Regions from separate parts of the Homo sapiens genome. Here region 2 is linked to region 1. The links come from fine-mapping of genetic effects on plasma protein levels. Region 1 holds a variant in brackets. A gene starts in the other region. All regions are shown on their forward strands.

Region 1 (16,366 bases):
GACCAATTTTTTTTAATTTATTTTCTTTTTTATTTTTTCTTGAGACAGGGTCTAACTCTGCTGCCTAGGGTGGAGTACAGTGGTATGAACACAGCTTACTGCAGCCTCGACCTCCTGGGCTCAGGTGATCCTCCCAAGTAGCTGGGACTACAGGCATGTGCCACCACACCTGGCTAATTTTTAAATTTTTTGTAGAGATGAGGTCTTGCTATGTTGACCAGGCTGGTCGGGAACTCTTGGCCTCAAGCAGTCTTCCTGCCTTGGCCTCTCAGGCGTGAGCCACCATGCCTCGCACTGGCCTGTATTAAATTCTTTGAATCATCCTAAATTCCTTCTTACCTTAAGGTTTTCATACATCGTCTTACCTTCACTTAGATAACTCTCACCCTATCCCCACCTCCCAGACTGACTTGTTAAGGTATCTCATGTGAGAAACCTGCAGTATTTTCAACCCTCACTCCTTGTTGCTTTGTGCAATGGTATATGTTTTCACAGAATATTTTATTTTACTTTCATATTCTTAGAAATATATACCTATGTATTGTTTATGTAATACGTATCTTCTTCAGAATGGAGGTTATTTGAAGAACCCCTATGTGTTTTGCTGTTATATTTGTAGTACTTAGTATTTACTTTAATCCATGGCATATAGTTGGTGCTTAATACATACTTATATCATGAAAGCCAGAACTCTGCTTCAGTGTGGGAATTGGAAGCCCCTTTCTTCCTGTTGCAGCCTCTAATGCCATTCCCCCTCTACCCTGTAGTTGGGACCAAGATGAAGGGTAAGTTTGTGATTATCTTTGGTTAGCAGGGTGGGGATATGGGCTACTACTTGTTTCTTCCTTTCCTTGGTATGTTCTCTGGAACAATGAGTACTAAAGTATGTCTACCAAAACACAGTTTTCTTTTATTCATTAAACAAATATTTGAGTACCTGCAATTGTTAAGGCAGTGTTACCTGTATCTCCTTGAGTTATATTTCTGCAGTGAAAGCTTGAGAAATCAAGTGACAAGCATGCAATCACTCATTAAAATGTAGTGGCCATCTCTCAGTTTCTGTTTCTCAGCTGAGTTCTGCAGGGTGCCACAAAAATGAAAAAAAAAACACTGTCTTGCCTCTGAAAGAACTTGTGATCTGGAGGGTGAGAGGGTAATGCACTTGCTTCCTCTCTGCTTGGCTTCTAAATGTTGAAGTGCTCAGAAACTTGGAGTTCTGTCCTTTTTTCTTTTCTCTCCACTGACCCTAGGTGTAGTTGCCATATATGTGAGATGACTTTCAAATTTACATCTCTGGATTCATATCTAGCATCTGACATCTTCATTTGAATATTGAATAGGTATTTCCAAAATGACATATCCAAAACATGATTGTCACCCTCTCAACCTGGGCCTCCTCTAGCCTTCCCCACCTCAGTAATTATTATCACCATTTACTCCATTGCTTATGTCCAGAAGGTTAGAGCCATCCATGATTCATTTCATTCCTTCCCATATTGAGTCCCTCAGCAAATCCTGTTGGTTCAATCTCCATATCCATAATTTCCTGCATGGATAATTGCAGTTGCCTCCTGTTGCTTTTCTTGCCTCCTTTTAGGCCTTCTGTAATTTATTAAGTATGCAACAGCCAGAATTAACTTTTCAAAAGTATAGGTCAGGTAATGTCATTACCCTGCTTAGAACCTTCCAGTGTTAATCAGTAAAATCCAATGACTTGGTCAGGTGTGGTGACTCATACCTGTAATCCCAGCACTTTGGGAGACTGAGGCAGGATCACTTGAGGCCAGGAGTTCAAAACCAGCCTGGCCAACATGGCAAAACCCTGTCTCTACTAAAAATACAAAAATCAGCTGGGCATGGTGGCAGGTGCCTGTAGTCCCAGCTACTCGGGAGGCTGAGGCAGGAGAATAGCTGGAACTCAGGAGGCGGAGACTGCAGTGAGCTGAGATCACACCACTGCACTCCAGCCTAGGTGACAGAGCAAGACTCCATCTTAAAAAAAAAAAAATCGAATGACTTATCGTGGCCTACAAAGCCCTGCATGATCTAAGCCTCAGCTAATTTCTCCAACCTCATGTCATTCCCCTCCCACCACCATCCTTCAGCCATACTGGCTTTACTTCTGTTCCTGAAACATGCTAAGATTATTTGTGTCTTAGGACTTTTGCACCGGCTATTCTCTTTAACTGAAGTTTTCTTTGCAGGTCTTTGCTTTGCTGCTTCTGCTTTTGCTGATTGTTAGGTCTTTCCCCACATGTTACCTTCTCAGAAAGGCCTTCTCTGACTGCCCTGTCTAAAGTAACTGCACATCACTGACACATGACAGTTTTACCTCTTCAGAGCATTCTCACTCTCTGGAGTAATTTTGTTGATTTATATGTATCGTTTATTACCACCCTTTCCCGATACCACTAACCATCACTGATAGAATGCATGTTCCATGAGAACAGGGCTCTTTGTCTTGTTCACATCTGTACAAGGCAGGTTAGTATAGTAGTTGATAGCATAAGCTCTGGAGTTATAATGTTTGAGTTTGTATTTTGACTCCACCACTTGCAGTATGATCTTAGACAAGTTTCTTAACCTCTCTGTGCCTCAGTTTCCTTATGTAAAATGAGGACACTTAGAATTCTTGAAGATTAAATGGAAAAACTTAGAAAAGTATTTAGAGTGATGTCTAGCATATAGGATAGCATATAGATTATTAACTTTATTGTCAGCACTGAGAAAAATGTCTGATGCATTGTGCCATTAAACATTCAATGAATGAATGAAATAACTGCTATTAATACTTGCCAGACTATTCCAGAGGTACAAAAATAATTCAGGGACTTAGTGGGGAAAATTATATTGAGTTCAAGGGGATCATGGTAGCATTTGTCAAGTAGATTGCATACAAACTGATCTGAATTATTGCTAATGTTGCATAGTGGAATAAGGGATTAGTACAAAGAAGGAGCTCCTAAGAATAAGTGTTCTAAGAGGGAGGAAATGGAATCTGCTAGGCCAGTTAAGGGCTGGGCCTTGAACTGGCACAGCATCACTTCTGCCAGTCTGTTGGTCAAAGCAGTCCCTGGTCCATTGCAGAATTGTCATGGGAGGGAAACTACACAAAGGTGTGGTTCATTGGGGAGCTCACCAGAGTAACACTGTACCACAGAGCGTTGGTACTAGATTTTAGAGGGCTTCTGATGACAGATCATGGAGTTTAGTCTCTCCACTCTAAAGGATAGGGAATGGCCAGGCGTGGTGGCTTGTGCCCATAATCCCAGCACTTTGGGATGCTGAGATGGGCTGATGGCTTGAGCTCAGGAGTTTGAGACCAGCCTGGGCAACATGGTGAAACCCCGTCTCCACAAAAATACAAAAATTAGCCTGGCATGGTGGCATGCGCCTGTGGTCCCAGCTACTTAGAAGGCTGAGGTGGGAGGATCGCTTGAGCCTGGGAGGTGGAGGCTGCAGTCAGCCATGATTGTGCCACTGCACTCCAGTGTGGGCATAGGGAGTGAGACCTGTCTCAAAAACACAACAAAAAAATCCACATAAAATCTCTGTTCTTGTGGAGTTTACATTCTTGGGTGAAGGAGTCGGGCAGGCAAATTATTGAGAAAATTTTCTCCTAGAGGAAGTGCACTTCCCTGAGATCTGAGGAAGCAGCAAGTGCAAATGTCGCAAGGCAGGAACAAGCCTGGCAGTTCCCTTCCCTGGCAGGATCTTGCTGTAGCTCAGTGGTACTTCAGAACCACCCAGAGGGCTTGTTGAAACACAGGTTGCTGGGCCCAACTCCAGAGTTTCTGAATCCATAGGTCTTGGGTGGAGCTCAAGAATTTGCATTTCTAACAAGTTTGTAGGTGATTCTTATGCTGCTTGTCCAGTGAGGAGATTTTGAGAACCACTGACCTGGATCTTGTCAGTGTTGGCTTCTTGACATTCTTATCTCCTTAAATATCATCTCTTCGCAAAGAACTTCCTTGAGCACCAGATCTAAAGTCCCACCAGGTTTCCTTTGTTCCAACGCTTCTGTTTTCCCCAAAGTATTTTTCCTTAGCTGACAAGACCAGACAGGTGAGTTTAGGAGTCTGACTGGACATGTGTATAGAGACAATAGTGGAATCTCAGAGATTAAGGTCTTTGAGGGTGAAGAATGAAGGGCTGAGAACTGAGCCTTTGCCATTGTAGGTGATAGTGTCTATTACATGCCTACTATGTGCTGAGCACTGGCCTAATAATTTTATAGTGTTATCTCATTTAACTTCTCATAATAATTCTAGAATGTAGGTACTATTGTTAGCCCGTTATATAGACAAGGAAACTCAAGCAAAGAGAGATTTATTAATTTGTCCAATATCGTTGCTAGTAAGTGGCAGAGGCAGGATTTGAACCCAGGAGGTGTAACTTCAGAGACCGTGCTATTAATCATAAGCTTTCAGGGAAAAATCCTTTTGGGAAGTTGAGGGTATAGGATTAAATAGAATTGGCAAATGAAGTCAGAAAGAGGTTTAATGATAGAATACTTTGAAGAAGGATGTTGGGTCTTTGGGATTTAACATTTATGCTGGGAGGTTATATTTTCCATTATTTAAAAAATTAGAATCATTTTCCCAGAGCATACTTTTGCCAAAAGTTTTTGCAGAAAACTTGGGGACATGGGCTTATACCAGACTGAATGGTTGCCGTAGGGTATGGGTAGTTCAGAGATTTTAACTGAAGCACCTCTCATATTCTAGACACTATTCTGGGGGCTTGGGATACATGAGAGAACAAAACCAAGATCCTGAGGTGAATGGGTTGAGACAGCTAATTAGAAAATGAACATAACTGTACATTATCTAGTATGTTGGGAGGTGATACCAGAAAAAGAAAAGCAGAATTAGGCAGAATGGGATGTGGATGGAGGAGGCGTTGCAGATTTACAAACAAAGTGGACTGGGCAGGCTCATTGAAATGATTGAACAATGACTTGGAAGTGCTAACTTTTGAAATGAGAAGAAAAAATGTTACCTTGGGAAACAGGGTGCTTCAGTAAGTTTTTTATTTGTTTGTTTGTTTGTTTGTTTGTTTGTGAGACAGTCTTGCTCTGTCGCCCAGGCTGGAGTACAGTGGCGCGATCTCAGCTTGCTGCAACTGCAGCCTCCACCCCTGGGATCAAGCAATTCTCCTGGCTCAGCCTCCCAAGTAGCCGAGATTACAGATGCCCACCACCACGCCCAGCTAATTTTTGTATTTTTAGTAGAGATAGTGTTTCACTGTGTTGGGCAGGCTGGTCTGGAACTCCTGACCTCAAGTGATCCACCCGCCTTGGCCTCCCATAGTGCTGGGATTACAGGCATGAACCACCACACCCAGCCCCAGTAAGTTTCTTTTGCCCCTAATTCAAATGAGACTACAAGTTTTGTAAAAAACTTATCTGTTCCTTGGGTTAACTTGCTTACAGGAAATCTTATTTCTTTGTTTAATGTTTATCCCTATTGCTGCTTCTGGTGTTTTAATTTCGGCTACATGCTGGGTGACTTTGTTACTAGGCTGCTACTAACACAGTTTCCTTACATTGACTCAGGCCAGTCTAGCCAGGGCTTTCCAGTCTAGGCCTTTCTGCAGTCAAGGCAATAGTAAGCATTTCTTTTTCTTTTTTTTTTTTTTTTGTAGGGGAACAGAGTCTTGCTATGTCACCCAGGCTGGAGTGCAGTGGTGCAATCTCAGCTCACTGCAACCTCCAACTCCCAGGTTCAAGCGATTCTCCTGCCTTGGCCTCCTGAGTAGCTGGGATTAAGGCATGCGCCACCCCATTCAGCTGATTTTTGTATTTTTAGTAGAGACGAGGTTTCACCATGCTGGCCAGGCTGGCCTCTAACTCCTGACCTTGTGATCCACCCACCTTGGCCTCTCAAAGTGCTGGGATTACAGGTGTGAGCCACTGCGCCCAGCCAGTAGTAAGCATTTCTTAATGTGCTAGCCGTGAATATGAATATGTGTATGGATGCTGTATAATATGAAGAGGTAAATGAGAGGATGTGGGCCTGGTTTCAGCATATCCACTCTTTTTTTTTTTTTTTTTTTTGCAGAACCATCTTCTCTTTTACCTTTGAGTGAAACACAGTTTTTTCACTGTTCCTAAAATGGTGTTAGGAATGCTCTTATCTAGGGTCTTTGTGCTTTTTCCTGTGCCAGGACCACTTTTCCCTGAGATAATCTGCGTGACTTCCTCATGTTGATCAGTGGCCTCTGCTAGTACCCTCAAAAGAATGGTATGCACCCCCATCACCATCAACCCTGCTTAAGGTTTCTTCATAACATTTATCAATCCTTGATATAAATACTTCTCTGTTCTTGTTTATTGTAGTCTCTGTCCTTTAGCTTGGGTGTTTTTTGACAGTAGAACTTCAGCTGTGTTTTCCCCCACTTGCCTGGCATATAATAACTGTTCAATGAATACTGATTTAATAAAGAATATGTTTAATGGGGGATATTCTACTTTTACTTGTCTAATATTTCAGAGTTTAAATTTGGCCTCTGTAAGTTAACAACTCTTTAGGGATCCTGACCGTGTAGCTTGTCCTATGTTGCTAGGCATGTAGGCATTTATGGGGTGTAACTAAACATAAAATAATGAAATTTTCATATGGCCTAATGCCATCATTCTCATTACTGTGTGATCACTGATCCTGTTTAAGTAACTTGAGACCAGATTTGTCTGACCCAGTGAAGCAAACACAAATATGTGGATAAGCTAAAATACTTTTGCTTGGATCTGCTTAAATTAGATGGCTTAACGTTTTAAAACATTTCTCAGGTTGAGCAAAACTGCAAGATGAACATTACTCTGGTAAAGCAGCTGGTACTATTCTCACTAAAACTTTAGACATTAAACTACTTCAAGTCAGAGTTTGATTTGGCCAGAGCCACAAGGGACTGGTGGAATGATGTCAAAGTAAAAGTGTGAACCCTTCGGAAGGATGGGAATTAAGTAGAACTGTGCCTATGCCAGAAACTCCAACTCCTCAAGAAACCCAAAACTTAGAGATGGTCTTTTGCTATTTGTTAATACCTTTGTATTACTTTTTTTTAAACAGCAAGTTTTTGACTCAAATCTGATCCTCTAACATGGTAATGATTAGAATTGTTTCTAAGACTCGTAAGTTGTGTTTTAATAAGGCATAGGAGTTGAAAGTTCCAAACTTGCTTTTAAAAGCTAATCTAGTATACCAGCTAATTAATCTTGATCTACTGGGCTGCCTTTTAAGAAGGTCATGTTAGCACCATCTTCATAGATATCAAGCATATTTCACAGTATGTCTACTATTTGCTCTTAACAGATATGCTTATTAGGGAAAATTTAAAAGATAGTAAACTTGTGTGTTATGACATTTGATTAATATGTTATAATTTTTTTTGGTGTGTAACTTGTTTCAAAATATATACTCCTCTAAAATTCATTATAATTTCTTCCTTTACATTAGCCTTTGTTGTGAATTAATAATGCAGAACAAGAATTAGCCACCTTAAAGTTGATTTTCTCTACTATAAAAAAGACTATTTTTTAGTTTTTTTTTTTTTTTTTTTTAAGTTAAAAAAATTTGGGCTGGGCATGGTGGCTCACACCTGTAATCCCAGCACTTTGGGAGGCTGAGGCGGGTGGATCACTTGAGGTCAGGTGTTCAAGACCAGCCT[G/T]ATTAATATGGTGAAACCCTGTCTTTACTGAAAATACAAAATTAGCCAGGTGTGGTGGTGCATGCCTGTAATCCCAGCTACTTGGGAGGCTGAGGCAGGAGAATCGCTTGAACCTAGGAGGCAGAGGTTGCAGTGAGCCGAGATCGGCGCCACTGCACTCCAGCCAGGGCAACAAGAGCAAAACTCCGTTTTTTAAGAGACAGGGTCTTACTCTGTCATCCAGGCTAGAGTACAGTGGCTCTCTGTAACCTGAAGCTTCTGGGCTCAAGTGATCCTCCCACCTCAGCCTCCCAGGTAGCTAGGACTACAGGTATGTGCCACCATGCCTGGCTAAATTCGGGTATATTTTTGTTTTTGTTCATTGTAGAGATGGGGTCTTGCTATTTTCTCAGGGTGGTCTCAAACTTCTGGGCTCAAGTGACCCTCCTGCCTGACCCTCCCAAAGTGCTGGGATTATCAACATGAGCCACTGCGCCTGGCCAACAACAACACTTGTACAGAAAATTTCAAACCAAACAAATTTAGAGAGAAAAGTATAATGAACCCCTGAGTATCCATTACCCACCTTCAACAATTTTAGCACATGGTCAGTCTTCTTTCATGCATATCCCTACATTCTCTCCCAACTCCCATGTATCATTTCAAAGCAAATTTCAGGCTATGTATCTCTTTCAACCATAGTATGAAAGAGAACTCTGAAAGATAAAGACTTAAATTTTTTTGATATAACTACAATAGGTAGGATATTTTAAGGCAACCTATACATATTTCATTGGTTTTAGTACTTGAAGTCAATCTTCTAATAGTATAGTACAATTAAAATAGTATAAGTAGTATAGTACCGTTACAACAGGATAAAATACTACTGGTTTTATTATAAGTCTTTGGCTTACAAATTTGTGGACATTTCCTTAGGAAAACAGAAGCATCAAACTTTTTAAGCTTCTAGATGATTTCAGATGACTTTTCTAAAAGTTTGTAAGGAAAGAACAGCACATTGAGTATAAAATGAGTAATACAATTTTGGATTTTGATTCATCTGAACATATTCTTTTCTACCCTAAAATGTTATTAAATTCTTGTATTAAACCAAAGATATGAAAACATTTGTAATTCTAGTTCATATTCAGATGTGAATTGTGATAAATGTATTTTTGGACAGATTTCCTTTATCTAATGCCAGAAATAATAGACTATGTTAATAATAATACATAAAATTGTGTTGTAGTGAAAAATTGACTCTACGGTTTTCTCAAACAAGGGAGAAAATTTAATTTGGTAAATGAAAGACTAAGCCACAAACAAAAGGATACATTGAAAAAGCTGAAAAAAACATTTCGTAGCACCCATACATTTGAATCATGGAAATATGAACTGTGTTACATGTTGAGAAGTAACCAGCTATATGTTAGTTCATTTTTATTCATTCCTTTGTAGCCAAAATAAGAGATAACCATCCAGGGCCCATATAACCACTTTTGTCTGTCTCCTAAATAAACATGCCTGGTATTTACAGGTAGTTAGTACATGCAAACACAAAATAATTTGCTTTGATGGATGTATTTCTTTTAAAAGAAAAGCATAGGCTGGGCACGGTGGCTCATGCCTGTAGTCCCAGCACTTTGGGAGGCCAAGGCAGGCACAGATCCCTTGAGCCCAGTAGTATGAGACCAGCTTGGGCAACATAGGGAGACCCTCGTCTCTACAAAAAATACATAATTAGCTGAGCATGGTGGCATGCATCTGGAGTCTCAGCTACTCAGGTGGCTGAGGCAGGAGAATCATTTGAGCCCAGGAAGTCAAGGCTGCAGTGAGCCATGATCACCTCTCTTCTCCAGCCTGGGCAACAGAATGAGACACTTTCTCAAAAGAAAAGGAAAGCATTACAAAAAAAATACTGAAATATTGGAAATAAGGGGAAAACTTGGGACCAAAAAATCTTGTCTTTGTCCAGAAGAAAGATTGATAATGCAAATGATGACAAATAGAAAAAGAAGATGATGAAATGCAATTTTGGAGTTGTCCAATCCAGGCCTTGGTGGCTCTTGTTATCATGGATGTAGCCAAGCATATGCCATATCACCATCACATTTCATTATTTCCCTGTGAAACAGCAGACAGAAATTCTTAGCTGCCTTGACTTTGGCAGTATTTTTCTTGGGCATCAGTTACAAATGCCAACATCTGTCTCTTTTTGTTGTGAATACTCTTTGGAACTGATATATTGGTTTTTTAATATACTCTGCCACCCCACTAGATAGGAAATTCCATACTACTAATTTGACCTTTCTTAGTGAAAACAAACATCTTCTGTTTAACCAACTTGAGTGTATCATTTGTACAAAATAGGATTTTTGGTAAAGATCATTAATGATGTATATGGCCGAATAATATTTCATTGCATAGACATAGCACATTTTGTTTATCCGAACTCTTTTGATGGACATTTGGGTTGTTTCCACTTTTTGGTTATTGCAAATAATGCTGCTATGGACATTTGCATGTAACACTTTGTATGAACATGTTTCCGGTGTAAGTATCTGGGAGTGGAACTGTTGCAAATTTATGTTTAACATTTTGAGGAATTGCCAAATTTTTCTCCCCTAAAGTGGTTGTACCATTTTGTATTCCTATCAGAAATATATGGGCCAGGCACAGTGATTCACGCCTGTAATCCCAGCACTTTGGGAGTTTGAGACGGGCAGATCTCGTGAGGTCAGAAGTTCAAGACCAACCTGGCCAACAGAGCGAAACCTCATCTCTACTAAAAATATAAAAATTAGCTGGGCGTGGTGGTACACGCCTATGGTCCCAACTACTTGGGAAGCTGAGGCAGGGGAATCGCTTGAACCCAGGAGGCGGAGGTTGAAGTGAGCTGAGATCGCGCCACTGCACTCCAGCCGGGCAACAGGGCAAGACTCCATCTCAAAAAATGAAAAGAAATATATGGATGTTCCAATTTCCCCATGTCTGTGCCACACTTGTGATTGTCTTTTTTATTATTGCTCATTCATTTCTTGAAAAGTTTAGCATGTTTGACTCATCTGCCTCTTCTACCTCTATTTTCTCTAAAATTGGGTTCAAGGAAGGGAAGTATCTTTTATCATCAACAGCTTTATCGATTTGATATTTTCACTGATTTTTTTTTAAACTAAAAGATGACGTGAGATTATTCAGCAGTTGGTAGCCAAGTTCATTAAACTCTAGATCATTTTTTTTTTTTTTGAGTCAGAGTTTCCTTCTTGTGGCCCAGGCTGGAGTGCAGTAGCACGATCTTGGCTCACTGCAACCTCCGCCTTCTGGGTTCAAGCAATTCTCCTGCCTCAGCCTCCCAAGTAGCTGGGACTACAGGCGCACACCACCATGCCTGGCCAGTTTTTTTGTATTTTTAGTAGAGACGAGGTTTTGCCACATTGGTCAGGCTGGTCTCAAACTCCTGACCTCAGGTGATCCACCCACCTTGGCCTCCCAAAGTGTTGGGATTACAGGCGTGAGCCACTGCGCCTGTCCTAAACTCTAGATCCTTTAACATTTATTTTAAAAGCAATTTCTCATGAAACTTGGAGCTACTTGGGAGTCGTGTGTATGGGGGGGGTGTGGTCATGACATTATAAGGTGTATTTTGATTTTAGGATTCCCTTGGTATCGATTTTAGTTCGGAAACTAAGGGAAGTTGTGTAGCAGGTAGCTATGTTTAAAAAAATGTAATTTAGACACTCCCATGCTTAAAAATCCTTTGGTTTTCCATTGCAGTTGGAATGAAATCCAGACTCATTGTGCCCACAAGGTTTTCCATGTCTGACCGTTAACTACTACCTTTCCACGATCTCCTACTGCTCACCCACTTCCCTTAGTACACTCACAATATGCTGGTCTTCTTTCAGCTTCTCTATGTTCCAGACTCTTCCCACTTCAGGCCTTTTCCTAACTGTTCTTTCTCTTCCTTTGGTTTGGGGCAGGGCTTGCTTAAGATCCCTTCTTCAGGAGGCATTGCTGATTACTGTGTCCTCTTTCTCCCATAATCTCTATATTTAGACTTTTTTCTTCTTTATTCATTTGATAGAGTTTATAATTGTTTTATTAGTTGGTTTCCTTTTATTTACCACCCTGTCTCACAACTAAACTGTAAGCTCTTCAAAGACTTATCCTTTTATTATATCCCCAGTGCCTTGCTCATTGCCTGGTACATAATATCTAATATTTGTTGAATAAATTAATTTACCCTGCTCTGCCATATATTTGTTTTATTCTATTTTGTAGAATTGGCTAGACACTTGTATGCGGTTTAATACCCCATAGTTAACAATAGGTCATGATGGCAGGAACTTTGTCATTGTGTATGCCTTTCACTCCTACCTTTTGCATGCATATACTCAGTAAAGACATAGAGACTTAAGTTGAAATTTTCCCTTGAAAATAATGTTGAGCATGTTGAAATGGATACCTTAGAAATGTTCTGCAGCTACACTGCCAATATAATGAGAATTTTTAAACAAAAACTTTAAGATCAAAGGTAAATAGAGTAAAAATCAAAATGGACATTTTAGATCTAGGCCATAAATTAGGATTTACAAGCACTTTCTTCTTCCTGTTCCATACCTTTTCCTACCTCCCTCATGCCACTGTTATAACTACTTTATTGTTCCAGTTGGCTTTTTCTGTTTTGGTCCTAGCCTTCTGGTCCACAGAACTTTGTAGCGCGAGGGGTTGTGGGAGGAGATAGTACAATGTAATAATTGTATAGGTAATGTATATGTAATATGTGTGTTATAGCTGTGCTTGATTTATTATTACTGTCTCCTCAAACGGTTTCTCTAGCTGTCTAATCTTACTGCAGCAGTTAGTCCTCCTTTCTTGAAACTTACAGTTCCTTTGATTTTTGGAGACATTCCTGGTTTTCCTCTTAAGTTTTTAGTTAAACTTTCTTATTCTTCCTTATGGTTTCCTCTTCCTCTACCTTTCCCTTAAATCTGCATCTCAGGTAATTGATTTTAAAAGTACCAAGTTATGACATGGACACAGAGAGGGGAACAACACACACCAGGGCCTCCTGGGGGTGGTGGGGGAAGACGGGAAGGAACTTAAGAGTATGGGTCAGTAGGTGCAGCAAACCACCATGGCATATGTATACCTGTGTAACAAACCTGTATGTTCTGCACATGTATCCCATTATTTTTTAGAAGAAATAAAAAAATAAAAAAGTACCAAGTTATGAATGATTACTCATTGTCTTTAAATAAGATAGAGTTGATCCCTATGATATGGTTTGGCTCTGTGTCCCCACCCATATCTTATCTCAAATTGTAATCCCCACATGTCAAGGGAGACCTTGATGTGGAAGGTAACTGGCTCATGGGGGTGGTTTCCACCATGCTGTTCTCACGATAGTAAAGGAGTTCTCGTGAGATCTGACAATTTAAAAGTGGCAGTTTCCCTTGCACTTGCTGTCTCTCCTGCCACCTTGTGAAGACATGCCTTGCTTCCCCTTCACCTTCTGCCATGATTGTAAGTTTCCTGAGGCCTCTCCAGCCATGCTGAACTGTAAGTCGATTAAACCTCTTTTCTTTTTAAGTTACCTAGTTTCACATCATTCTTTATAGCAGTGTGAAAATGGACTAATACACCCTATAATAGTATTGTTACTCATTTATTTCTGTGATATCTTAAGTGGAAGAGGGAAGAGTGGTACTTCAGTTGAGTTGCAAGGAATTTTGATTTGCAGATAAGTAACATCCTTGAGAAGCAGGAAATTAATGTATTTTGGTCATATGTGTAAAGCAGTGTCTCTATAATTTCTGCCCTTAGCCCACTTCTGATGTGACTCACTCTTGGACATTTTCATTTACTTCCATGACTTCAAAAAACACTCAATTTGTAACGATCCCCAATTTTTTATTTCCAGCTCAGATTTCTCTTCTGAGTCCTAAGTAGGAATATTCATTAGCCCTCTTTCAATTATTTCTCACAACATGTCTCTTTAACACCTCAAACTCAGTGCTTTCAAAATTGAAACCGTCCATGTTTGTTCAGCCTTATGGGTGGCTCACTGTCATTCATGATTCCTGTCTTCCCCGCAAGTCTTCTCAATTGTATTTTTTAAGAATTCCTAAGTATCTAGCTATTGCCACTGTTTTGCCCTCATAATTTCTTACCTGGATTTCTGCAGTAGGATCTTGGCCTTCTCTCTTTAAGGTTTGTTCTGTTCTGCACAGTATTTATCAGATTATCTAAGATAATGATTCTTTTGAACTTTTCAAAGTGAACTTATAGGGTCCCATGTCACATGTCAGAACTACTAATCAATAATTTCTGAAAGGGAGATCTGGATGTATATAGTTTGAAAAAACTAACCAGGCGATGCTGATGAGCATCGCCTGGTTACAGACCATTCTTTAGGCCAGGCAAAGTGGCTCACGCCTTTAATCCCAGCACATTAGGAGGTGGAGGTGGAAGAATCGCTTGAGTCCAGGAGTTCAAGACCAGCCTGGGCAATATAGGGAGACCTTGTCTCTATAAAAAGATATTTAAAAAACTGGCCAGACATGGTGTCGCACGTCTTTGGTCCCAGCTACTCAGAAGGCTGATGTGGGAGGATTGCTTGAGCCTGGAAGGTCACACCTAGGGTGAGTTATGATCACACCACTGCACTCCAGCCTGGGCAACAGAGCAAGTCCCTGTCTCAAAAAAGTATAAATTTAACTCTTACTAAAATTCTTGAGAGGCTCTTGATTCCCTTGAAGATAAAATGTGAGATCCTTATTTTGGTATATAATATTCCATAGTTTGGTTCCTGTCTACCTCATATCCCTGTTCTCCAATACAACCATGCTGAATTACTACAGTTCTAATGTGCCATCTTAGGGATATTTCTAGGTCTTCATATATGTGATTTTTATCTTCTTGGAACCTTCTTTTCTTTTGCTTTCCCTGGATAATTTCTCCTCTTCCTTTTTTTTTTTTTTTTTTTTTTTTTTTTTAAGATGGAGTCTTGCTTTGTCGCCCAGGCTGGAGTGCCGTGGCGCGATCTCGGCTCACTGCAAGCTCTGCCTCCTGGGTTCATGCCATTCTCCTGCCTCAGCCTCCCGAGTAGCTGGGACTACAGGTGCGCGCCACCATGCCCAGCTAATTTTTTGTATTTATTTTAGTAGAGACGAGGTTTCATCGTGTTAGCCAGGATGGTCTCGATCTCTTGACCTCATGATCCGCCCACCTTGGCCTCCCAAAGTGCTGGGATTACAGGTGCGAGCTACCGCACCCGGTCTTTCCTCGTCCTTTTAATACTCAGTTGTCATGTCCTAGAGGAAGTCTTCCCAGATTGTGTTATGTTTATTTACTTATGCTCTTTTATTTCTCTAGTTCCTAGCATAACACTTGGCAGTCAGTAAATGTCAGTTGTATAAATGCAGAACTTACCTTTAGGTGCAACAATAGTAGCATTGATTCAGCATTCATTATGCGCCAGTTGCTGGACTGTGCTAGTTGCTGCTGACCGTATGTGCTTTATTGTTTACTCTCACAACAACCTGATGAAGGTAGGTGTTACTATTACCCATATTTTACTGTTGAGGAAACGGAGACTTGGTTAAGTCTAACTAATTGTCTGTGTGGCTAGCCTCTAAGTCACAGAATTTATATAGAACTGGATTTGAATCCTGTGGCCTGTTTGCAGAGCTATGCTTTTATACAGCTGTTACACAGTTGTTTCAAAGTTCCCTCGTTTATTTTTTCAAATTCATGATAAATAATTTCTTAATAAGAGCTGATTATTCTTAGGCTACATGTTTTTGCTTTTAAATTATCAAACTGGATTAGCTAAAACAAAGATTTTAAAATATTTGGCATTTAGGTATGAATGGGATAGGTATATGCTAGAGTTCCACACAGATTTAATTCAGTGGACTTAGTGTTTATTTCTATTCGGATTTTATACCAAAGAATACTGTGTGCTAAATAAAGTAAAAATATTTATCTTAACTGAGAATATTAGAACTACAAAGAACATTAGGCTTTATAAGTAGGAAAACAAGTATTCTACAAGATTATGTACTTTGCTCAAAGTCTTGTAGCATTTATTTGCAGAATCAGGACTGGAATTTGGGGCTCCTAACTTCCAATCCAGAATGTTTATCTTTCTCAACTATGAAAAGCTGATATACCTAAAACTGTAACAATATTTTCAAAGCTTAAAGAGAATTCTATTTTTATTATATTCTAGGTATTTGTGACCAAATTATTTAACACAAAAAGAACAAAGTGATATGACTACTTAAGGCAAAATCATTTATTCAGTGCTTAAGTAACTTATTACTTGTGTGCAAGTACTGGCTTGTTTTCTCAGATTTAACATATTTCGTGAAACATTTGCTAATTGATTTTTAAACCTGGAATGTGTTTTATTTCTTAAGCATCATAAACATAAGAGTAGGCTACCCAAGGAGTAGGTTTATATGTTATTAATATCTGGGTATAAACCATAAGAGCATATATTTAAAAGCATTTTATCTTACAGTCATATACCATCTTCACTGCATGAGTGGACATTTTAGATGAATTTTTTGCCTCAGCTATATCTGCTTTAGAAATTAATTTTCTTTGTTATAGTGAAGTTGACTAAAAAATGGTCACACTTAAACAGTGTAGAGAGTGGTAATCTGATAACTAATCTTTGTTGGTTTGTTTCAATTTTTGTTGTTGTTGT
Region 2 (8,000 bases), not on the chromosome of region 1:
TTTAGCTTGTTTTTATTCTAGACTATGAGCTCCTTGAGTAAAAGAACTGGGTGTTTTTATTTTTATATCGCCAGTAGCTACACTCAGTGCTTAATAAATGTTGAACATCCTGAAATTCCAAATGAAAGCTAGGTGAGAATTCCCTGAATTGGAATGAAAGTTTTTCTGAGGTGAAACTGTTCCTCAGGGGTCTTGTCTGAACTGAGTTTCTCATTCAGATTCTACCATTTTGAGTAAGACTAGAGCTCCAGCCATGTCACAAGTATAAACTACCAATTAAGGTCTTTAGGTCTCTTCTTGGGGTGACCCTTTAATTACCTATATCCCTCCATTAAGCCCTGGCTCTTGGATCCCTTTTATTCCAGCTTACCTTACCTACCCTGCTTGGGCCACTGGGGTAGGCCATTAATTCTGGGGAAATTGGAGTAGATACAATTTAGATCCTGTCTTTCCTGTTCTTGGAGAGTACGTTTTCTGCCATTAGATTACAGTGTATTATGTGGTGTCCTATTCTTTCTGTCCTTTGTAAGCATGTTCCATTTTAGTCTCGGTCTTGACTCCTGACTCTGCCCTTCACCTTCATTCTCCCATCTGTGTGGTGGTTGAACTTCCTCCCTCTACTCTGTGTTTGCACATCAAGTCCTGTTGAATTCTACTCCACTCCACAAATATCTTAGACCCTGCATTTATATTAAGATAGAGAAACTTCTAAAGCCCTGTAAAGAGAAGAAGCAGAGAGAAAAATAATCTCTAAACTCTTTAGGGATCAGGGAATCTTAATAGATTCAAATCATCCAAGTGAGCCAATAGCCTATGTTATGATGGGACTTTTTTTTCTTTAACTTGAAGCTATAATTAGTAATACCTATCCTTTGTGTCTTAGTGATGGGCAAAAATAATGCTATCATATTAAAAGCATTAACTGAAAGAAAGAAACTGTGGTGTTAACATTTGCTCATTGTGTACCCCTGCAAAAAAGAAAAGAGAAAGTAGCAATTATAACTGGTCAATCTTATAAGTCTTTATCCTCCAATTTATAGTGGAGAAGAACTTCTGAAACAATCAGTATTGTTATATATTTGGCTGAATTTCTCATTTTCCAGTGTGTATGTGTATGTGTCATACATAGTGGGCAACAGATACTTAAGTGCTGTATTAACTTTTTCCTTACCCAGCATTCATTTCTGTGTGCCAAGAAAACCACAAGTAATTAGTTTGCCCATAAAGGTGGGGAATGAATGATGTGGTATAACGTCACCCTTGCAGTGTTAACTCAAAGACAGTTACAGTTACTTGGTACCAATTGATAGAGGGTCTAAACTGTTAAAATTGATTTAAAAAGAAAGTCCTATATTGACTAGGTTTTCAGTTTTTGGTACTGTATGTAGATGGCATATATAAATTATTGTGGAATGCTATTGATATCAAAATAACCAGTACTCTTCTATGTATTTTCTTCAAATTGTTTTCTATAATAATAACCTTAAGCTGATAATTCATCTTTATTTCTCCAAATACACATTTCCGCTAATTTATTTTTGAGGCAACACAACATTGCAAGTATAGGGCATTGTGTAACATTACTTAATATATAAATTGCAACTGGTGAGGGATCATCTTAAAGTCTAGTTTTCTTTAAGTTTTATTTTTTGGTTACTATAGATACTGTTTGGTTACCATAGATACCATTTATTAATTTGGAAAGCATACATACTCTAAAAATACAATCTTAGGGACAATTATTATGAATTCGTTTGAATCATTTAAAGTGATTTTCCCTTCCCCTTACCTTATCAGACACATTCAGGAAAAGCAAAAACATGCATTTAAATGGGCAGTATTTTAGAAGCTAAATTTAGAATAGAAATAAAGTACCTTAATATTTTTTCCATCCAGGTATTTATCCTCATAATCTTGGCTAAATATGGATTCTTCAAAATTATCTGTTCCATAATCATAGATAATGCGTGAGTCCTGCTGGGTTGGTGGTGCTGGCTTTATCAGAGGCACAAGCAGTAACAGGAGAAGTGTAGACTGCAGAGTCTTCATTTTAGCAAAAATCAAGGTGACTGGAAGTTAATAAACTAGTGGCCTGCTGACTGTGGGACAAAACTCTCTTTTTCCCTGGAAATAAAAATTCAGACCATCGAAGCAATATTTAAAAGCTTAGAGGATGTTTTGGCAGGGTGTGCGCAGTAAGGGCCAGAGAACAGTATTTAACCCTTAGTGATCTTTAATTAGATGCTAGCAGTTTTTATGTATCAGTGAACATTCTGAAAAATAGTTTTGGAAAATAGTTTTACTTCTCTATCAGAAATTCAAGAAAGATTGATAATTTTAAGTTTCTTAATAATTAAGTGCCTTCAGCAGACATACTAATATTTAATTGAAATATTCTTAGGATACCTGTAGTATAAATAGTTAAAATAAAGTCCCAAGATCCTGTCTCATGTGAGTTAAAAATATCATATTTCCACTTAGCTACTTTATAAGAACTCTTGATTTATATTGGTATGAACAGAAACAAGTTCCAAGAAAAGTTTTAAAACTTAAATTTAACATTATGAAAAGTAGTCATTAACACCTTTAGGTGGTACAGAATATAGGAAAAGCCATACGTTTTTAATTTTCTTAGTTTTGTAATTTTAATAGGTGATCATAATTTTTAGTTAATAGTATTGTATTTTTAATTTAAGCTAAGAAAACTGAAAGAATAGTATTGCAGGCTAGAGGAAATACCGAACTTTAATCAAAGAACTTTGAGGAATGTAATAGAAAGGATTCCTTTAGGCTCATCAATGGATTTTCTCTGGTGGGTACACATTTCAGACTTTTTCTTAAGTAACTTCAAACAGAATCACTCAAGAGTTGCTGATGCTGCATTATAGATGCCAGTTTGTCAAAAATCCAGAGGTTGAAAATGAAGAAGATAATGGATTTGTGACTTCTGCAGCACCCTATTCTTGCCTGCGTGGATGTTAAATTTATGCGATGATATACATAAGTACTTCTTAAAAATTAATTGAGGTAACTGAAACTTAAACCAGAGATGGCCTTTACATTTATTAAGACTATTAGATGAGTCAGTCGCACTTTAACAAACAATATTTAAAATAATATATGAAAAGTAAGCCTACCGTTGTAGCTGTTTTGAAGTTTTTTGTGGTTTTCCTCAATAGATGTTCATGTCTGTGCATTAGCCCCAAGTGGGAGGGTGAATGAGAAAAGCTATGTCTTGATTTCAAACTGCTGAGTAAAATTTCAGGGCCCAGCAGCTTTAAGAACAGTTTCCATGTGGTAGAGATCTTTGCCAGCATTCTTTCTCTAGGGTGAAATGCAGTGTGTTGTACTAGAGAACTGTGCTTAAGTTATTTGTTGTAACTGCTGCACTCAGTCTGCTTCAACTAATTTGACTATAAACTTGTGTGATTTTATTATTGTGTAATAAACATTCATGTTTTGGTGAATATTAGTTTATGAAAAATGATATAGTTTTAAAGTCATCCTTTTCATTTTGGTGATTTCCCAGGAGATCAAACAATCTGCTTTTTGAATGAAATAGGACACCAAATGACAACATAGTCCATGTTGTTAATTTTATGAGGATTAAAAATATTGCCCTAATACCATAATTAATATATAGCCAGTGTAATATATTTTTCCAGTGTAAAAATTAGTTTTAGCACAAATTATTTGATAGTTTTGTCATTTGGATTTTTTCTCCCCTTTATTTTAGTTACATATAAGAAAAACTGATGCATAAAAATTAGCTTTTTAAAAGTAAATTTGATTTATAGTTTTTGAGGTTGATAGTAAAAGATACTTTTGTTTGCTGAATGAAGGAAACTTTATAAAATTACTTTAATATTGAAATTGGCTTTTAAAAATTAAAGTGGCATTGTAGATACCATACAAGCAACTTTGAAGATTTTTTTAAAGAGTCACTTTTAAAAAATTCCTCCTTGGTGCTTTTACCAATCAAATTAACTTTTCTCCTTTAAGCTAAAAATTTAACAAATATGGATATATATTTTATTAAAATAGAAAATGAAAGAATAACAATTTGTTTTCTTTTCTAGACAAAATTGTTTTAGAACCTTTCAAATCAAAGCTTAAATAAACTAAGACTTGAGCACTGAAGTTTTTATTTGAATGTGAATTATCTTAAATTTAATTGTGATATTGTCTGGCTTGAGTTGATATAAATTGTTGGTTTTATGGCTTCAAGGATACAGTAAAACTTTTTTAAATACTTTGAAATATATAATAATGAAACAACAGACATTGATTTGTTTTGTATTGTGTGGCAAGTTAACAAGATATTGAGAAGTAAGCTGGATAGATACCATATGTCCAAATTTAGAGAATCTTAGAGATTCATAGTTTCATTAATGGTACACTTTGATGCTTTGTACTACAGAAAATTATTTTGTGAAGAACAACTTTCCTTGAAAAGTTATGACCAGTGAATACAATGTTATTAGCATTCACTCATTTAATAAAAGTTTATTGAGCGCCAATTCTGTGCCAGGACTTCAGACACGTAAGCTCAGATAAGCAAACTTCAGTTTCTTCCCTCAAGGAAGATTTATAGCCTCTAAGTCAGCAGGAAAAGCAGCAAACAAGCAACTAGAATCCATGGTAGGGCTTGCTACACAGAAATATGCAGAGTTCTGTGATAACCTGGGAGAAGCCACAAACTGACTGGGAGTCAAGGAGACTGCACCCAAACTGACTTCTATAGAGAGGATAGGAGAGGAGGGTAAGCGCAGGTGATGAGGTATTCTAGGCAAGGGGATCATCACGTGCTCCCCTTAGGGAGGGGATGGGGGTAGATCATTCAGAAAATTTATAATTTGTTTTGCATACTGCTGGAGCTTGGAGGGAGAGAGAGAAGAAGTCAGGGGGATGGACCATATTAAGAGATGCGACTAGACAGGGGGAATAGAGGTTGGATTAAAGAAAGTATTTTATATCCTGCTAAAGTATTTGGGCTTTAGTCTGTAGTCAGTGAGAGACCATGTAGAGATTTTTAAGCCAGTGATGGCTTAAATATGATCCTGTTTGCATTTTAGAAACATTCCTCTAATGTTGCATTGCTGAAGAATACCACTGTTCATCTATTGTAGTGGTTATCTATTACTGTGTAAAAAACTACCACAAAGGAATGGCTTAGTTAAAATAACACACATTTATTATCTCACAGTTTCTGTGGGTCAGGAATTTGGCGTGTCTTTGCTTGATGGTCTGCTTCAGGATCTGCATTTGAAGTGCATCTGGCACTGCAGCCTCACTTCAGGGGTTGAGTAGGGAATGATCCAGTTCTAAGCCCATGTGGTTGTTGACAGCATTCAGTTCCTTGCAGAATGTGAAACTGTGGACGTAAGTTTCTTGCTAGCTGTTGACTGACGGCCTCCCTCAGTTCCTTGCCATGTGACTTCCTCAAAAGGGCAGCTCACAACATTGCAGCCTGCTTCTTCACAGCTAGAGGAGGAAATAGTCTTCTGGCAAGATGGGTATTACCCGCACTTCTGATACCAACAGCAATTTCAGGAGATTCCTAGAACCACTCTTATTACATTTGATAATTCCCTAGAAGAACTCTCAGAACTCACTGAAGACCATTATACTCATGATTATGGTTTATATAGAAAAAGGATACACCCTAAAATCAGCCAAAGGGGGAGATGCGTAGGGGCAGTGTCTAGAAGGCTCCAGACTTGAAACTTCCATTGTTCTCTGGATGCATTGCCTTACGTTGATATGTGGCAGTGTATGTGGGGTATTGCCAACCAGGCAAGCTTATTCTCAGTGTTCAGAGTTTTTATTGGGGCTTTATTAATAGGTTTGATTGATTGATTGATTGAATTCAGCCTCCTGGTCCACTGATACTACATAACCCAAATCCCTTATCCTACATCACGTGGTTGGTCTTCCTGGCATAGCCACCTCTACCTCAAGACTATCAGGTGTGGCTGATCTCACCCTAAACAAAAACACTCCTATCAGAAATAACATAGATCACCTCTCAGAAGCCAAGGCAAAGCCCAGACCTCTCTTTAGGCAAAGCCAAAATCTTTACTACACAGTACTCAATATAAAATGCTTGAAACTGAGGTGATTTTCTATTCCAGAAAGAATTGAATGCTGATAGAAAGCTATTTAGCTTTTACTCTACAGGAGTAAAAGATGAAAGCTGTCTCATGCTCAAGAGCAGGCATTGTATCCAAAGATGAAAGAGTCTTCTTTGTGGAATTCTTTTTATGAAGGCAAGGTCTTGCTCTGTCACCCAAGCTGGAGTGCAGTGGCACGATCATGACTCTCTGCAGCCTCAACTTTGTGGGCCCAAATGATCCTCCCACTTCAACCTTCTGAGTAGCTGGGACTACAGGCATGCACCACCATGCCTGGCTAATTAAAAAAATTAAAAGAATTGTAGAGACGGGGTCCTCTTATGTTACCCAGGCTGGTCTCGAACTTTTGACCTAAAGTGATCCACCTTGGCCTCTGTGGAGTTCTTTTAGGTGACCCTATTGTATTATCTTTGGTGCCTTATAGGGGTTTTATTTCCTCAAAAGTGTACCATTTGTCTGTTGGCAACCAAAAAAATGTGTTGAATGGAATGGAATTTTGGAAACAAGAGCTTCCAGGGAAAAAGTATTTTTGGGGAGTGGCTTAATTCTGATAGAGACCATATGACCTCCAAGTGGATTAGCTTTCAATGAATGCTACAAACCAGAAGAGTCTTTCCCCCATCTTCATCTTCATTCTCTAACTTTGTAGGAAATAGTTTGGTTTAGGAGTCAAAACACCTGAGTTCTAGTTTTTGTTTGTTTGTTTGTTTTTGAGACGGAGTCTTGCTCTGTCTCCAGGCTGGAGTGCAGTGGTGCGATCTCAGCTCACTGCAACCTCCGCCTCCCGGGTTTAAGCAATTCTTCTGCCTCAGCCTCCTGAGTAGCTGGGACTACAGGCATGCGCCACCACGCCCAGCTAATTTTTATGTTGTCAGTAGAGACAGGGTTTCACCATGTTAGCCAGGATGGTCTCGATCTCTTGATCTCGTGATTTGCCCGCCTCGGCCTCCCAAAGTACTGGGATTACAGGTGTGAGCCATTGCACCCAGCTGAGTTCTAGTTTTGATTCTTCATGAACCTTCCCCTGACCTTGGCAAGTTCTTTAACGTTTTGGGCCACAGTTTTTTTATCGATTGAACTTTTATCGATTGAATCGGGTTACTACAGAGTTCCTCAGCCTCTGCACTACTGACATTTTGGACCTGATAATTCTCTGTTGTGGGGGCTGTCCTGTGTGCACTTTAGGATGTTTAGCAGCACCTCTGCCTTCTACCCACTAGATGCTAGTAGTTGCACCCCACCCCCACCCCTACTTTGTGATGACCAAAAATGTCTCCAGACATTGCCAGCTGTCCACTGATGGGTGGGGGTTGGGGAAGCAAAATCATTCGTATTGATAACTGCTGAGTTACTAGATACACATAGACCCTTTTTAATCCAGCATTCTGGATTTTGTGGAAAGTCTGTGGTTTGGATCTCCGTCTTAAATCTCATACTTATGCTTGAAGCCTAATTGTTTGTTCAAACAAGAAATATGAGAACCCATGTATTTTACTTCCCAGACTAAAGGGTAAAATTTATATGGAGAGAATTATGACTCAATGTAAGGAAGAGCTCATGGTAAAATTGTATTTTATTTGTTAATTTAGTTTTTCTCAGTAGTACATAAATCTCTGTATAGTGAATTCATAACCTAAACAAGTAAAGTGATGCAAGATGTGTCCATGATGTTATGATATTTACACCTAGGCAGATTTATAACTTGGAATAGTTATATCAATTTAGGAAATTGGAACATATAAGAAACTTCAGATGTGTAGCCATTATGATTTAATTTTGTTTCCAGCTGCTCTTATGCTTTATTTCCAAGATGTAGAAGAAATGGATTTAGAATCAGGAAACCAGGGTTTTAGGTCTAGCCATCCT

Direction of the effects. Alleles are on the strand shown, and positions count from the first base shown. The strength of an association depends on the size of the effect and on how common the allele is.
For the plasma level of the protein whose gene starts at base 3,220 in region 2, G is the high allele of the variant in region 1 and T is the other (weak association).

Evidence for each region. A credible set is the group of variants that fine-mapping cannot tell apart. PIP is the chance, under the fine-mapping model, that this variant and not a neighbour inherited with it causes the effect. Protein levels are from antibody-based Olink assays in UK Biobank. Linkage for the fine-mapping came from a reference panel and not from the study's own genotypes, which makes the PIPs less certain.
Region 2: it holds the start of OGN, and the variant in region 1 is the best candidate, but not a certain one, in a credible set for the plasma level of the OGN protein (UK Biobank, PIP 0.54).

Annotation. Positions count from the first base shown.
Region 1 is chr11:32,898,564-32,914,929 of GRCh38, forward strand. The region is part of intron 1 of QSER1 (glutamine and serine rich 1); the gene reads left to right. Among named protein-coding and RNA genes, the nearest start is that of QSER1, 14 kb to the left of the region's middle. RefSeq lists an enhancer at 1,031-1,220. The variant G/T (reference allele first, on the strand shown) is at 7,669.
Region 2 is chr9:92,401,359-92,409,358 of GRCh38, forward strand. OGN (osteoglycin) reads right to left here and starts at 3,220. Exons shown (of 7, transcript NM_014057.5): 1 at 3,138-3,220; 2 at 1,876-2,124. The coding sequence starts at 2,049. The region is part of intron 5 of CENPP (centromere protein P); the gene reads left to right.